2 separate regions of the Homo sapiens genome follow, and region 2 is linked to region 1. The links come from fine-mapping of genetic effects on plasma protein levels. A gene starts in region 1. The other region holds a variant in brackets. All regions are shown on one strand. Distances are between the middles of the regions. Region 1 holds the start of NPPB (natriuretic peptide B). Region 2 holds the start of NPPA (natriuretic peptide A).

What was found. PIP is the chance, under the fine-mapping model, that this variant and not a neighbour inherited with it causes the effect. Protein levels are from antibody-based Olink assays in UK Biobank. Linkage for the fine-mapping came from a reference panel and not from the study's own genotypes, which makes the PIPs less certain.
Region 2: its variant is fine-mapped to the plasma level of the NPPB protein (UK Biobank, PIP above 0.99).

What each region holds. Positions count from the first base shown.
Region 1 is chr1:11,855,308-11,863,634 of GRCh38, reverse strand. NPPB (natriuretic peptide B) reads left to right here and starts at 4,690. Exons shown (of 3, transcript NM_002521.3): 1 at 4,690-4,933; 2 at 5,166-5,421; 3 at 5,964-6,171. The coding sequence starts at 4,802. The coding sequence ends at 5,980. RefSeq lists a silencer at 4,125-4,291.
Region 2 is chr1:11,844,173-11,852,499 of GRCh38, reverse strand. It overlaps NPPA (natriuretic peptide A), which reads left to right and starts at 4,717. Exons shown (of 3, transcript NM_006172.4): 1 at 4,717-4,938; 2 at 5,061-5,387; 3 at 6,486-6,791. The coding sequence starts at 4,816. The coding sequence ends at 6,491. It also overlaps NPPA-AS1. RefSeq lists an enhancer at 3,891-5,681. The variant G/C (reference allele first, on the strand shown) is at 4,411.

The sequences.
Region 1 (8,327 bases):
CACTGCACTCCAGCCTGGGTGACAGAGTGAGACTCTGTCTCAAAAAAAAATGTGTATAGTATATATATAGGGTGAGTTGACTTATTACAACTAGGGCTTTTGTGCCTGGCAGAAACCTTAGTCTAATCCTTTCACTCTACACAAAGGGAAACCATCCTAGAACAGAGAAGCAAACCGAGCAGAATCTTCGGAACAGGCCGGGCACGGTGACTCACATCTGTAATCCCAGCAATTTGGGGGGCAGAGGCAGGCGGATCACCTGAGGTCAGGAGTTCGAGACCAGCCTGACCAACATGGTGAAACCCCATCTCTACTAAAAATAAAAAATTAGTTGGGTGTGGTGGCACGTGCCTCTAGTCCCAGCTACTCAGGAGGCTGAGACAGGAGAATCACTTGAACCCAGGAGGCGGAGGTTGCAGTGAGCTGAGATCGCACCACTGCATTCCAGCCTGGGTGAAAGAGGAAGACTGCATCTCAAAAAAATTAAAAAAAAAAAAAAAGAATCCCTGGAACAGAGCCACACCGTGAGTCAGCCACGGGCAGAGACGAGCCTGCCTCCTGCCTCCTGGGTCAGTGCTCCTCTGTTTCCTCCTTTGCTTCCCCCAGGTGCCCAGTGCTCTCATACCATCCACTTTGGCTGCCCAGGACTAGACTGGAGATTGAGGCCAGAGGGAAGCTACAGAAAAATCTTGCAGCTGGAGTCCTACTCTCTGACTAGTCAAACCTTGTATTCTGCACAGCTTCTTCCTTCTGCAGAGAGCATAGGGGTGGTAGCTGATCCATTAACCAGCCCTTCTAGCCTCTGCTTGTGCATCTGCTCTGCCCAGAGTGCCCTCCCCATCTTCCATCTTCCTTCTTGTGGCTAACTCATTCTTATCCTTCAAAGCCTTAGCCCAGCCCCACCTTCTCCAACAAACTCCCTTCTCGACTGCGCACTCCTGCTGTGCTCACAGAGCATCCAGGACTCACTGCCACTGTATCTGTCACTCACTGTGGCAGCCTGGGGAGCCTGTGATTGTGCCCACCTTTCCCCCTGCACTGTAAGCTTCTCAATGGCAGGGACTTTCTTGTCCGTTATGTATCCCCACCTTCCAGCAGAAATATTAGATTTTAACCTGCACAGTCTCATTTTATGCTCACAACAACCCTATGAGGTAGCCATGAGAAAACAAGGAGAGAGAGGAAGCAACTTGCCCAACACACAAAGGTAGCAAGAAGTTGATGTGAAATTGAGCCCAGACTGTGATTTCAGTCTTGGGTCTGGGCTACTGTGACCCCAGGGTCTCGGTGAAAGTTTGTTGAATGACTTAAGGGTCTTATTTCTTTCTGTGTGGCCAGATTAAGCACTTAGAGTTGGATGGTGGTGGGGAACCAATACTTCTACCATAACAACATTTGCTGAGGGCTTACTATGGGAGAGACACTATGCTTGGCATTTGACATATACTCTATTAATTTCCCATTGCTGCTGAAACAAAGTCTCACAAGCTTGTTGGCTTAAAAGAACATGATTTTATTTTCTTACAGTTCCAGACATCAGAAGTCTGAAATCTGTTTCACTGGGCTAAAACTAAGGTATTGGCAGGCCCATATTCCTTCTGGAAGCTCTAGGGAAAAATCCATTTCTTTGCCCTTTCCAACTTCTAGAGGCTGATTACATTCCTTGGCTCATGGCCCCTTCCTCTATCTTCAAAGCCAGCAGTGTAGTCTCTTCTCTCCTCTCTGACCTGTTCCCATCCTTACATTTTGTCCCTCTGACCTTGATCCTCTGGCTTCCCTCTTATAAGGACCCTTGTGATGACATTGAGCCTTCCTGAATAATCCAGGAGAATCTCTCCACCTTGAGGTCCTTAACTTAACCACACCTGCAAAGTCCTTTTTACCATGTAAAGTAGTATATTCGCAGATTCTGGGGATTAGAATATGGACATCTTTTGGGGACTATTATTCAGCTTACCACAGACATCATCAAATTTAATCCTTGTACATTAATGCTCCAACAGAGGTGTTATGATTAGCTTCATTAAATAGACTTGGAAAGCACATAGCATATGACAGGCCCTCGATAAATGTTGATGGGGCTGATCTGGTGTGAGAGTTAGTTGACAACATATCCTCCTCCCTGGACAGCAGGCCTTGGAGGATGTGTCTAGTTCTGTGTCTTCCTCAAGTCTTCTTCCACAGTCCCCTCCACTGGGGACAGATAGAAACTCTGTCAGAGTGTATGACACTTAGACACTTAATTGTCTCACTTGGGGTCACTTTGTCTCCCCAGTGAGATCACAATCTCCTTCAGTGTAAAGACCAACTCTCATGTACTACTAATTATTTGGCCCTTTATACAGTGCCACGGGCTTTTGCAGATATTATTTTTTTCCTTTTAGTCCTTGCAAGGACTGTCCATTTTGCCGAAGAGCAAAGTGAGGCTCTGGCGAGATGCAGAGTCAGTTTTTGATGGTGCTGGTTGATGAATCCTGCCTTGCTCTGAACCCTTTATCTCATGGTACTCAGCATGAGGGGCTTTCTGCACCCTCAGCAGCCTCTCGCCCACTGACTCCCCTCTGCACTTGGCTGAATTTTCTTACCTCTTTAGCTTCCTCTTAGCCTTTTGATACTCTTACTGTGGCATGCTCATGTGCACGCACACACACACACACACACACACACACACACACAAAACTACCCCAGCCCCCCAGAACATTTCCAGCACTGGTGTCTTTACACAGCCCTTACCCACCCACCTCCATTTATATTTCATCTGCAAAATGCTCATCTGAGCCACTTCCCATTCTTTCTCCTGCACACACAGTCACCACTAGAATTGCACATCCCCCACAGCACAGCTCCCAGAGCCTTCATAGATGACACGGGATTCACCTAAGCTTGCTTTTTGTAGAAACACCTTGTGATCACCCTGGCAGTGATTATGAGCTTCAGGTCTGGAATCAGACTGCTGGCTAGACTAATCAGACTGGTTAGAATCCAGGATTTATCATGTGTCAATTGTGTGACTTTTGGAAAGTAGATTAATTCATGAACACCATTTCCTCCTCTGAAGTGAGGAATAATAACCGTGCTTTTCTCACCTCAGGGGCAGATGCTATTTTTTAGGCAAGATCTGCTTAGAGGTCCCAGTTTCTTATTGCTGCCCTTCTCTGCTGTAACTCTTCTCCCCTCATAGACAGCTCCACTCCTCCAGCCTGCTGCTTGTTGACACCAATTCTCTGGAAGGGGAGTGACATCAGTCATATATGCTTTAGGGGGGTATTTAAGCTGCTATGACTCTTCTCAGGGGCATTTCTCTCCAAAGTCTCACTTCTAATCACCAGGCCACCTGCTAATGATAATTAGATCATGGGTGGTCAGATGAAGGAGGCACTGGGAGAGGGGAAATCCCCATATCTCTGGTATCCCAGCAAATAGATAACCATCATTCCAGCCATCCTTTTGTTTTCTTTCTTTCTTTCTTTCTTTCTTTCCTTCTTTCTTTCTTTCTTTTTTCGCTCTCTGTCAACCAGGCTGGAGTGCAGTGGCGTGATCTCAGCTCACTGCAACCTCCACCTCCTGGGTTCAAGTGATTCTCCTTCCTCAGCCTCCCGAGTAGCTGGGACTACAGGCGCCTGCCACCATGCCCAGCTAATTTTTGGTAATTTTAGTAGAGACGGGGTTTCACCGTGGTCTCGATCTCCTGACCTCGTGATCCGACCGCCTCGGCCTCTCAAAGTGCTGGGATTACAGGCGTGAACCACCATGCCCAGCCTATCCTTTTGTTTTCCATCCTGTGTTGGCTTGGTGGGGGAGAGGAGGTGTTGACACGTGGAGGACACACATATAAGGCATTCTTGGGTGACTTCGTCATCACTGGACCCTATCTCTCAAAATTCCAGCGAAATCTGCTCTTCCCTTTAAGGAGTGAAAGAAGGGTCAGCATTCCAGAAGTTCCTGGTCATACCCAGGCTTTTAATGAATTGCCACTGGGGAATCAGCATCCCGTTGCTGTAAGGACTATAAGATGGCGGATTGTGAGAGCATAGGGAAAGGTCTCGGAGGTCTCTTGTCCTTGCTCCACGCAGGTCTTTCTGGCCTGAAAATCCCGTTGAAGAGAGCAGCTCTTGAGAGTTTGCTCCAAGTTCCCTCGGGGTGATCAGCACCACGGACAGCGGCCAGGGCGCCCCCGAGGACCCGCAGGCAGGCAGGGTGCACAGCGGCGAGCAGGTGCTGCGCTACGTGCGGGCCAGGGAACTCGCGCGGGGAGGGGAGAGGCGCCGCGGGTGGCGGGGTCTTGGCCGGGGCTGTTTTCGCTGTGAGTCACCCCGTGCTCCCCGCGCTCACGTCGGTCCTCGGAAAGCCGGGGTCCTCCCTGCCTTTTCCAGCAACGGTGGGGTGGGGAGGCAGGAAGAAAGCGCCAACCTAGGACACCTGGACATTTGCAGGAAAGGAAGAAGCGGGAGACGGGGACTTGTCTGTGTCTCCAGCGCGTTCCTGCCCCCCGGCCCGACCCGGCCCATTTCTATACAAGGTCGGCTCTGCCCGGTCTCCACCTCCCACGTCGCAGGCGCGGAGGGGCTCATTCCCGGGCCCTGATCTCAGAGGCCCGGAATGTGGCTGATAAATCAGAGATAACCCTGCATGGCAGGGCAGGCCCGACACTCAGCTCCAGGATAAAAGGCCACGGTGTCCCGAGGAGCCAGGAGGAGCACCCCGCAGGCTGAGGGCAGGTGGGAAGCAAACCCGGACGCATCGCAGCAGCAGCAGCAGCAGCAGAAGCAGCAGCAGCAGCCTCCGCAGTCCCTCCAGAGACATGGATCCCCAGACAGCACCTTCCCGGGCGCTCCTGCTCCTGCTCTTCTTGCATCTGGCTTTCCTGGGAGGTCGTTCCCACCCGCTGGGCAGCCCCGGTTCAGCCTCGGACTTGGAAACGTCCGGGTTACAGGTGAGAGCGGAGGGCAGCTCAGGGGGATTGGACAGCAGCAATGAAAGGGTCCTCACCTGCTGTCCCAAGAGGCCCTCATCTTTCCTTTGGAATTAGTGATAAAGGAATCAGAAAATGGAGAGACTGGGTGCCCTGACCCTGTACCCAAGGCAGTCGGTTCACTTGGGTGCCATGAAGGGCTGGTGAGCCCAGGGGTGGGTCCCTGAGGCTTGGACGCCCCCATTCATTGCAGGAGCAGCGCAACCATTTGCAGGGCAAACTGTCGGAGCTGCAGGTGGAGCAGACATCCCTGGAGCCCCTCCAGGAGAGCCCCCGTCCCACAGGTGTCTGGAAGTCCCGGGAGGTAGCCACCGAGGGCATCCGTGGGCACCGCAAAATGGTCCTCTACACCCTGCGGGCACCACGAAGCCCCAAGATGGTGCAAGGGTCTGGCTGCTTTGGGAGGAAGATGGACCGGATCAGCTCCTCCAGTGGCCTGGGCTGCAAAGGTAAGCACCCCCTGCCACCCCGGCCGCCTTCCCCCATTCCAGTGTGTGACACTGTTAGAGTCACTTTGGGGTTTGTTGTCTCTGGGAACCACACTCTTTGAGAAAAGGTCACCTGGACATCGCTTCCTCTTGTTAACAGCCTTCAGGGCCAAGGGGTGCCTTTGTGGAATTAGTAAATGTGGGCTTATTTCATTACCATGCCCACAATACCTTCTCCCCACCTCCTACTTCTTATCAAAGGGGCAGAATCTCCTTTGGGGGTCTGTTTATCATTTGGCAGCCCCCCAGTGGTGCAGAAAGAGAACCAAACATTTCCTCCTGGTTTCCTCTAAACTGTCTATAGTCTCAAAGGCAGAGAGCAGGATCACCAGAGCAATGATAATCCCCAATTTACAGATGAGGAAACTGAGGCTCAGAGAGTTGCATTAAGCCTCAAACGTCTGATGACTAACAGGGTGGTGGGTGGCACACGATGAGGTAAGCTCAGCCCCTGCCTCCATCTCCCACCCTAACCATCATCACCCTCTCTCTTTCCCTGACAGTGCTGAGGCGGCATTAAGAGGAAGTCCTGGCTGCAGACACCTGCTTCTGATTCCACAAGGGGCTTTTTCCTCAACCCTGTGGCCGCCTTTGAAGTGACTCATTTTTTTAATGTATTTATGTATTTATTTGATTGTTTTATATAAGATGGTTTCTTACCTTTGAGCACAAAATTTCCACGGTGAAATAAAGTCAACATTATAAGCTTTATCTTTTGAAACTGATTTGTCTTGGCGCATTAAAAATAATCCCTCATTTCAAAGAAACCAACCCAACTAAAACCACAAAGCCCTGTGATCTCAAGGCATCTTCATGGTGGGATGAGGATGTGGCCTCAGAGGTAGCAGGCTTTCTTTTCTTTCAGAGTTTTTAATGCTCTGAAATGTTATTGAATATCTCAAGCACTTGAGGCACTTGGGAGAAACTGCTTTTCAAAGCAGGGCAGGATACGTGTGCAACCTGAGGGCACGTATCCAGCCGTTTTCTCCACTCGTCCTTGCTCTGCCTGGAATTCCACCATTAAAGCACTCTCCCTGGGGATTATTGCTTTCAGGTCTCAGCTAAAATGTCAACGACTGGGGGCAGTGTGTGTGGGTGTGGCTCATCTACATTCCCATACCGGGGTGAGCCCTCCATCCTGCCCCAAATATCAGCTTTGAAACTCCAATTCCTGGGGTCATCCTGCAAAGGAGCCTTCAAAACTCCAACCCACAAAGTGAGAGGGGTCTGGCAATCAGCCCAGCTTTCCAGGGTGCCCCTCCCCTGGGGCTGCATCATCTCTTCTCTTTGCCTTAACCAGTGGGGAGGCTGTCTCTCCTATGGGTCCCCTTCCCACACACCCTGCAATCCAGGCCTCCGCAGTGCTGAGTTCCTCTCCTTTCAGATTCCTGGGAAGGGCCTCATGTCATTCGCTTTCTCACAATGCCATTTATAATTCCAGCTCAGCTGAGGGGTAAGGCACCATGAGGTCCACTATTATTATGTCCATTTTCCAAATGGGAAAACTGAGACCCGGGAAAACTGAGACCCTGGAAAACCAAGCGTCCTATCCAAGAGCACACAGCGACTAAGCGCTGGTGTGGGAACTGAGCGGAGATCCAGGTGACTCTTGAGCCTGTGCTCTCTGACTCTTGAGCCCCACACTCCTGCCCTTGAACTTCACTCTCAAGTCTTTTCTGATGTTCTCATCAGATGTTTCTTTGAATGAGAGTGACCTAGAGGGTGGAACTTTGTGTTATTTATCATTTTCACCCAGTGTGCATCTGAGGATTTATGGATATCTAATGACATCAATTAAGATTGTTTAGACTGGGTGCGGTGGCTCACACCTGTAATCCCAGCACTTTGGAAGGCCGAGGCCAGAGGATCACCTGAGGTCAGGAGTTCGAGACCAGCCTGGCCAACATGGTGAAATCCCCTTTCTACTAAAAATACAAAAATTAGCCGGGCATGGTGGTGTGTGCCTGTAATTCCAGCTATTCAGGAGGCTGAGGCAGGGGAATCGCTTGAATCTGAGAGGTGGAGGTTGCAGTGAGCTAAGATTGCACCACTGCATTCCAGCCTGGGTAACAAGAGTGAAACTCCATAATCTCAAAAAAAAAAAATTGTTCAAAAACGAGGTTTTAGGCCAGGGACAGTGGCTCACACTGTAATCCCAGCACTTTGAAAGGCCGAGGCAGAAGGACGGCTTGAGCCCAGGAGTTCAAGACCAACCTGGGCAACATAATGGGACCCCCATATCTTCAAGAAATGAAAATGAAAAAAATTATCTGGGTGTAGTGGTGCATGCCTGTGGTCCCAGCTACTCAGGAGGCTGAGGTGGGAGGATCGCTTAAGCCTGGAAGCGGGGAGGCTGCAGTGAGCTGTGATTGTGCCACTGTACTCCAGCTTGGGTGACAGAGGGAGACCCCATCTCAAAAAACAAACGAACAAAAAAAGAGAATAAAAGAAATAAAAAAGAGGTTTTAGGGGCAGCTTATTTTTCCACCAACTGTGAGTCATGTCTAATGCTTCCAAACCGGGGAGAGCAATGAGTAATTAGAATAGTTAATATTCATAAAGGCCTCATTCATGTACCAGGCACAGTCATATAGACCTCACAACAATGAAGGAGTTAAATTTCTTTTTTTTTTTTTTTTTGAGACAGGTCTCACTCTGTCATCCAGGTTGAAGTGCAGCGGTGCAATCTCGGCTCACTGCAACCTCTGACTCCCGGGTTCAAGCGATTCTCTCGCCTCAACCTCCTGAGTAGCTGGGAGTACAGACATGCACCACCACCCTCAGCTAATTTTTGTATTTTTTGTAGAGATGGGGTTTCATCATGTTGGCCAGGCTGGTCTCGAACTCCTGGCCTCAAGTGATCCACC
Region 2 (8,327 bases), 11 kb after region 1:
ACCCAGCTCACGCCTGGTGCAGCAGCTTACACTTGTAATCCCAGCACTTTGGGAGGCTGAGGTGGGAGGATAAATTGAGTTCAGATGTTCGAGACCGGCCTGGGCAACAAAGAGAGACCTCGTCTCTACTAAAAATAAAAGAAAAAAAATTAGCCGGGTATGGTGGTGAACATCTGTAGTCCAGCTACTCGGGAGGCTGAAATGGGAGGATCACTGAGCCGGGAAGTCAAGGCTGAAATTACCACTTCACTCCAGCCTGGGTGACAGAGCAAGACTCTGTTTCAAAAATAAAATAAAATAAAATAAAATAAAACAAACACCCAGCTCCCTTGAGTCATAGGTGGCATGTGTCTCTGTTCTCCAAACAGAGAACCTGTTTGGAGTTCTCTGTGGGAGGAGGATTAAGCACCTACTGCCAGAGGTGGTCACTGACTTCTACTTTTTCTGTATCACTTCCCCACTCTCCACTGACATTTCCTGGGTTTGTCTCCAAGATCAGCCACTAATACTGGAATATCTGTCTCCGGTTCAAGAGAACTTAAACTAAGACACTCCCAAATAAGTCAACCTTCCTGCAGAGCCCTGCCCTTCATGATTCTCCTGCCTCAGCCTCCCGAGTAGCTGGGACTACAGGTGCACACCACCATGCCTGGCTAATTTTTGTATTTTTAGTAGAGACGGGGTTTCACCATGTTGGTCAGGCTGGTCTCGAGCTCCTGACCTCAAGTGATCCACCCACCTCAGCCTCCCAAAGTGCTGGGATTACAGGCATGAGCCACTGCACTCAGCCAATGTCACCTTACATTTGCTTTCCTTCCTTCTCTATTTGTGTGGGCAGTGCTTTCAGAAGGCCCCCAGAGATCCCCAACCTCCTGGTCTTCATACCCTCTGTAACCCCCTCCCTTAGAGTGTGAGTGAGACCCAGAGACTCACTTCTAAGGGACACAGAACAGTACAACATGAAGAATGGGATGTCACTTCTGAGATTAGGTAACAAAGAGACTGTGGCTTCTTCCGTAACTTCTCTTTCTCGCCTGACCTAATAGAAGACAGTTGCGTCTCCATGGAGAGACCCACGTGGCAAGAAACTGATGTTTCCACCAGCCACCAGCCAGCGAGAACCTGTGGCTTCTGCCAACAGCTGCAGGAGTGAGCCTGAAAGCCTATCCTCCCCCAGCCAAGCCTTGAGATGACTGCAGCCGCAGCCAACGCCTTCATTGCCCAGGGGCCCCAGGCCAAGCAGGGCCAGATCCCTGATCCACAGAGCACAGAGGTGATGAGATAATAGATGTGCATTGTGTGAAGTTGCTAAGGTTTGGGGTGACTTGGTTTTTGTTTTGTTTTTTGTTTGTTTATTTATTAAAAACAGGGTTCCTTATGTTGCTCAGTCTTGTCTGGAACTCCTGAGCTCAAGAGATCTTCCTGCCTCAGCCTCCCAAAGGGCTAGTATTACAGGCGTGAGCCACCATGCCTGGCTTTTGTTCTTTTTGAGACAGGTTCTCACTCTGTCACCCAGGCTGGAGTGCAGTGGCTTGGTCATGGCTCACGGCAGCCTCAACTTCTTGGGCTGTGGTGATTCTCCCACCTCAGTGTCCAGGGTAGCTGGGATGACAGGCACGCACCACTGCACCCAGCTAATTTTTTGTATTTTTAGTACAAATGGGTTTTTGCCATGTTGCCCAGGGTGGTCTTGAACTCCTGGGTTCAAATGATCCTCCCAAAGTGTTGGAATGACAGGCGTGAGTCACCACGCCCAGTCTGGGGTGACTTGTTACCCGGCAGTAGTTAACTAAAACAGCCTCTCACTCCGCCTCACTCTTGCTTCCTTTGAATAGGAACCCCCACAAAACTTTAGCGAGTGACCTTTTGCCTTGGGCTTTGTTTTCTAGGGAAACTGTCCCCAGTCTTCAGCCCTTAGTGACCTCCATATTAAACCAAAGAAACAAAACATCATTTTCAAAGTCAGCAACGATCATCCCTAAGTATGAACCAATTTTTCCCAACTGGGGCTTCTGCTTTAGACCATCTGGGTCCCGCAGAATCATGCCACGAATGTGTTGGGGATTTCGTGCCAGCTCTGCACGCGGGTGACACTGCACACTCTGGGGCTCCCTGCAGCAGCCCAAGGCATACCCCCAGAGAATCGTGAAGCCAAACTCTGGGCTGGAATCTGGCAACACCCGGATTCTGGATTCTCCCACCCGTTTGCAGTGCTCCACCCGTTGTATGACTAAGATGACTTCTTTCCAGTGATAAGGAAATAAAAGGCTTTTGATTTTTCAGCCGTGGAAGAGGTGGGGATGGAGGTGGGCCTGGCTTTCTGTGCCTGTTACTTTTCTTCTCTCTCACTCCTACAGGCTGCTTCTAACCACCCCATGAAATATTAGATCCCCACCTACAGACAAACCCCAAGGCTTGCCAAAGAGGGTCCCTTTTATCTTATCTTAGAATAATATCACCCTGGATACCTCTTGTGACCTCTAGTCACTTGCTGCCCTGATTTCCAACCTTATGGCTGCACAACGTCCTGTTCACCTGGTCAGTCATGAGGTCAGCACACCTGGGGACAGATCTGGCCAGCCAGGACAGAGCTGGTCACTCAACACACATTTTCTGAGCTTCTAAGGAGTGGATTAAAACACATTCGGTGTAGAAATAGATCAGGAGAGCAGCCAACACACACAGACTTGGTAAGTGCACAAAAAAGCTACAGCCCCAGGGGCATGGGGAAGGTGAAGGAGCTCCCTTGGGGCATCTGAAAGATGGGGAATGGGGGTTTAATTGGGGAATGCAGCTAAGAGGTAAGGTGGCAGCTCTCTACGTGAAATAGGCTAGGATACAGACATCAGCGTCAGACCTGGGGATCCAGTCCTGGTTCCGCCACTTAGGCACCTAGTGGCCTTGGGCAAGTGGCATAGCCTCTCGGGCTCAGTTCTGTTCCCTTGTAAGCAAGGACAATGCTATCTACCACCTGGGGATGGTGATCAAAATAAAATCATTTCCATAAAGTTCTCAGCACAGTGCTAGGCATGCTACAAGCAACCAATAAAGACAACTATGATGGCCATCTTGCAGGGACTCAGCACTGCACACTTGTTATGTGTTGACACGTTCTCAGCTCACTTGGGCTCCACAACAATCCTGCAAGGTAGGCAGGGAAGATTTCTACTTTATTCATTCATTTATTTATTTATTTTTTGAGACCGAGTCCCACTCTGTTGCCCAGGCTAGAGTGCAGTGGTGCGATCTTGGTTCACTACAACCTCCGCCTCCCAAGGTCAAGCAATTCTTTTACCTCAGCCTCCCTAGTAGCGGGGATTACAGGCACATGCCACCACACCCAGCTAATTTTTATATTTTTAGTAGAGACAGAGTTTTGCCATGTTGGTAGGGCTGGTCTCAAACTCCTGGCCTCAGGTGATCCACCCACCTTAGCCTCCCAAAGTGCTGGGATTATACGTGTGAGCCACTGCACCCGGCCGGTTTTTAACATTCTTTCTCATTTTACACACAAGGAAAGTAAGGCTGCGAAGAGGTATGCAACTGGTTTGTTTTGGGCTACAGTACTGGTCTCTCAGCCCTTCAAATTTAGAGTTTTCCCCCAGTATACGTTGCATTGAATGGTAATGGCTAACACTGAGTTCAGTGCTTAGCAAACAGGCCATTCATTAAACATAGACAGACTTGCTGCCTGTTATTTCCCTTTTGGGGGCCAGGGAAATTGTGACCTTGGTGGCTCGGTCACTTGCCACTTGCCACGTCCTCAGGGAAGGATGTAGAAGGCATTGAGGGAAACTGACTATACCTCCTTCACCCCCACCTCCCTTCCTCCATCGGTCAAGTTGCCACGGGCACAAGCCCAGGAAGGGCAGGGGGATGTTAACAAACTTCAGACACGAAGAGTCTGAGCATCTATAAACAGCAACGGAAGAAATGAAATTGGCTGCGTCCTCTAAGCCTGTCCCCGCAGCATGCTGGAGGAGGGTCGCGGGGGACATGGAAGAGGAGGAGCTTTGGAGAGAGGATGCTTGTGCTCCCCCGCCTTTTCTTGCTATTTCTATTTGGGGGTTGGATTCCTGGGAGCTTCATCACATTTGGTTCTCAGCTGACTTTATATACTAAAAAATAACTTCCTTTCGCCTGACCATGGAGAGGGACTGCCAGGGGTGAAGGCAGCCCTGTCTGAGGCCAGAGGTCTGCCCACGTGGCGGATGAGGCAGGTGTGAGGCCAGCTTGAGCATCTGGATCCATTTGTCTCGGGCTGCTGGCTGCCTGCCATTTCCTCCTCTCCACCCTTATTTGGAGGCCCTGACAGCTGAGCCACAAACAAACCAGGGGAGCTGGGCACCAGCCAAGCGTCACCCTCTGTTTCCCCGCACGGGTACCAGCGTCGAGGAGAAAGAATCCTGA[G/C]GCACGGCGGTGAGATAACCAAGGACTCTTTTTTACTCTTCTCACACCTTTGAAGTGGGAGCCTCTTGAGTCAAATCAGTAAGAATGCGGCTCTTGCAGCTGAGGGTCTGGGGGGCTGTTGGGGCTGCCCAAGGCAGAGAGGGGCTGTGACAAGCCCTGCGGGATGATAACTTTAAAAGGGCATCTCCTGCTGGCTTCTCACTTGGCAGCTTTATCACTGCAAGTGACAGAATGGGGAGGGTTCTGTCTCTCCTGCGTGCTTGGAGAGCTGGGGGGCTATAAAAAGAGGCGGCACTGGGCAGCTGGGAGACAGGGACAGACGTAGGCCAAGAGAGGGGAACCAGAGAGGAACCAGAGGGGAGAGACAGAGCAGCAAGCAGTGGATTGCTCCTTGACGACGCCAGCATGAGCTCCTTCTCCACCACCACCGTGAGCTTCCTCCTTTTACTGGCATTCCAGCTCCTAGGTCAGACCAGAGCTAATCCCATGTACAATGCCGTGTCCAACGCAGACCTGATGGATTTCAAGGTAGGGCCAGGAAAGCGGGTGCAGTCTGGGGCCAGGGGGCTTTCTGATGCTGTGCTCACTCCTCTTGATTTCCTCCAAGTCAGTGAGGTTTATCCCTTTCCCTGTATTTTCCTTTTCTAAAGAATTTGCTGGACCATTTGGAAGAAAAGATGCCTTTAGAAGATGAGGTCGTGCCCCCACAAGTGCTCAGTGAGCCGAATGAAGAAGCGGGGGCTGCTCTCAGCCCCCTCCCTGAGGTGCCTCCCTGGACCGGGGAAGTCAGCCCAGCCCAGAGAGATGGAGGTGCCCTCGGGCGGGGCCCCTGGGACTCCTCTGATCGATCTGCCCTCCTAAAAAGCAAGCTGAGGGCGCTGCTCACTGCCCCTCGGAGCCTGCGGAGATCCAGCTGCTTCGGGGGCAGGATGGACAGGATTGGAGCCCAGAGCGGACTGGGCTGTAACAGCTTCCGGGTAAGAGGAACTGGGGATGGAAATGGGATGGGATGGACACTACTGGGAGACACCTTCAGCAGGAAAGGGACCAATGCAGAAGCTCATTCCCTCTCAAGTTTCTGCCCCAACACCCAGAGTGCCCCATGGGTGTCAGGACATGCCATCTATTGTCCTTAGCTAGTCTGCTGAGAAAATGCTTAAAAAAAAAAGGGGGGGGGGCTGGGCACAGTGGCTCACGCCTGTAATCCCAGCACTTTGGGAGGCCGAGGCAGGCGGATCATGAGGTCAAGAGATCAAGACTATCCTGGCCAACATGGTGAAACCCCAGCTCTACTAAAAATACAAAAATTAGCTGGGTGTGGTGGCGGGCACCTGTACTCTCAGCTACTTGGGAGGCTGAGGCAGGAGAATCACTTGAACCCAGGAGGCAGAGGTTGCAGTGAGCAGAGATCACGCCACTGCAGTCCAGCCTAGGTGATAGAGCGAGACTGTCTCAAAAAAAAAAAAAAAAGGCCAGGCACGGTGGCTCACGCCTGTAATCCCAGCGCTTTGGGAGGCCAAGGCGGGTGGATCACGAGGTCAGGAGATGGAGACCATCCTGGCTAACACGGTGAAACCCCGTCTCTACTAAAAATACAAAAAATTAGCCAGGCGTGGTGGCAGGCGCCTGTAAGTCCTAGCTACTCCGGAGGCTGAGGCAGGAGAATGGCGTGAACCCGGGAGGCGGAGCTTGCAGTGAGCAGAGATGGCACCACTGCACTCCAGCCTGGGCGACAGAGCAAGACTCCGTCTCAAAAAAAAAAAAAAAAAAAGCAACTGCCACTAGCACTGGGAAATTAAAATATTCATAGAGCCAAGTTATCTTTGCATGGCTGATTAGCAGTTCATATTCCTCCCCAGAATTGCAAGATCCTGAAGGGCTTAAGTGAAATTTACTCTGATGAGTAACTTGCTTATCAATTCATGAAGCTCAGAGGGTCATCAGGCTGGGGTGGGGGCCGGTGGGAAGCAGGTGGTCAGTAATCAAGTTCAGAGGATGGGCACACTCATACATGAAGCTGACTTTTCCAGGACAGCCAGGTCACCAAGCCAGATATGTCTGTGTTCTCTTTGCAGTACTGAAGATAACAGCCAGGGAGGACAAGCAGGGCTGGGCCTAGGGACAGACTGCAAGAGGCTCCTGTCCCCTGGGGTCTCTGCTGCATTTGTGTCATCTTGTTGCCATGGAGTTGTGATCATCCCATCTAAGCTGCAGCTTCCTGTCAACACTTCTCACATCTTATGCTAACTGTAGATAAAGTGGTTTGATGGTGACTTCCTCGCCTCTCCCACCCCATGCATTAAATTTTAAGGTAGAACCTCACCTGTTACTGAAAGTGGTTTGAAAGTGAATAAACTTCAGCACCATGGACAGAAGACAAATGCCTGCGTTGGTGTGCTTTCTTTCTTCTTGGGAAGAGAATTCAGGCCGATATTCCTTGTCGTTTTACTCTTTGTCAGAGGAAAGAATGCTGAGTTTTTCTTCTTCCTTTCATTTCACCCTCCTTTTTTGGTAGGTGGTTGGGGAGGCCTCAAATTCCACTCCTAGTGGGGTTTTTGTTGTTTTTAGGGGGGAACATTCAGAAAATGAGAGTATTAATTAGATTTTCTCTGGTACATTTCGAGAGAGTTAGGTTCTACAGCTAAGGTAATGGTACTTTTAGTTTTGAAAAGAGTAGGCAGAGTGTTGAATTTAAAAGCTGAGCAGGCCGGGTGTGGTGGCTCACTCCTGTAATCCCAGCATTTTGGGAGGCCAAGGTGGGCAAATCACTTGAGCCCAGGAGTTCAAGACCAGCCTGAGCAATAGAGTGAGACCCCATCTCTACAAAAAATTTAAAAATTAGCCAGGCATGATGATGTGCACCTGTAGTTCCAGCTATTCAGGAGGCCGAAGTGGGAGGATGGCTTGAGCCTGGGAGGTGGAGGCTGCAGTGAGCTGGTATTGTGCCACTGCATTCCAGCCTGGGTGACAGAATGAGACTTGTCTCAAAAAAATAAAAACTGAGCAAAGTGAAGAAAGGTTTGCCATGCAGACAAACTACAAGTTCATGTGCCTTTTGTGTACTAACAAGTATTTGGAAAACAGACATAGTCTTTGCCTAATCCGGGTCTGAAGGGCCTGGGCTTGTATTTTACTAAGAGCTGCTGGAGAAGATGCCGGCTTTTTGTATCTGCTCCTGAAGAGGGTATTTGCTCTGAGCACAAAACACCAGGCAATAAGTTCACCTTAAACAGAGTAAACTGTTTTCCCACCTGTTACCCCCATGGATCCCAACCTCATCAGATTCTATGACACTCCAACACCCCACACCCACACATGCCACTGTGCCTTTATTTCTGCTGTTCCTTCCACCTGGGGTGTCCTTCCTCTGGTCCTCCCGAGGACATTGTACTGATTTCTTAAGGCTCATATGAACACTACTTCTTTCCTGGTACCTCATGCCTAGTAACAATGAGTCCCTTCGTAGGCAGTGTTGCACATGTAACTGTTATAATAGCACACAACACGAGTTGCCTATGTGCAATTGCTTGTGTCTACGTCCCTAGACTGCAAGCTCTTTGAGGGCAAATGCCCCTTCAGCACTCTCAGAGTTGATGCCCCATAAATGTTGGTCAAATTGCCTTGGTCTTGTCCAGAAATTGGGAAAAGAGGAAATGAAGTAGTAACTTGCTCCTTGCGGAGGAAAGGGGGAGGCTCCCAGTGAACTAATGGCAGGGGGTTGAGGTGGGGGGAGAGCCTCACCTAACCACCTCCAGTCAAAATCTTCTCTACCTGGACTTTAAATACCAGGAAAACCAGGGGGTAGAGAATGACAAGGATGAAAGTAAGAGCGACAGGAGACAGCACTGGCCCAAACCTGGCTCCTGAGGTCTGGGATGGTGTTGCGGGTTGCTAGGAGGGGAAGTAGCCCATTCTCA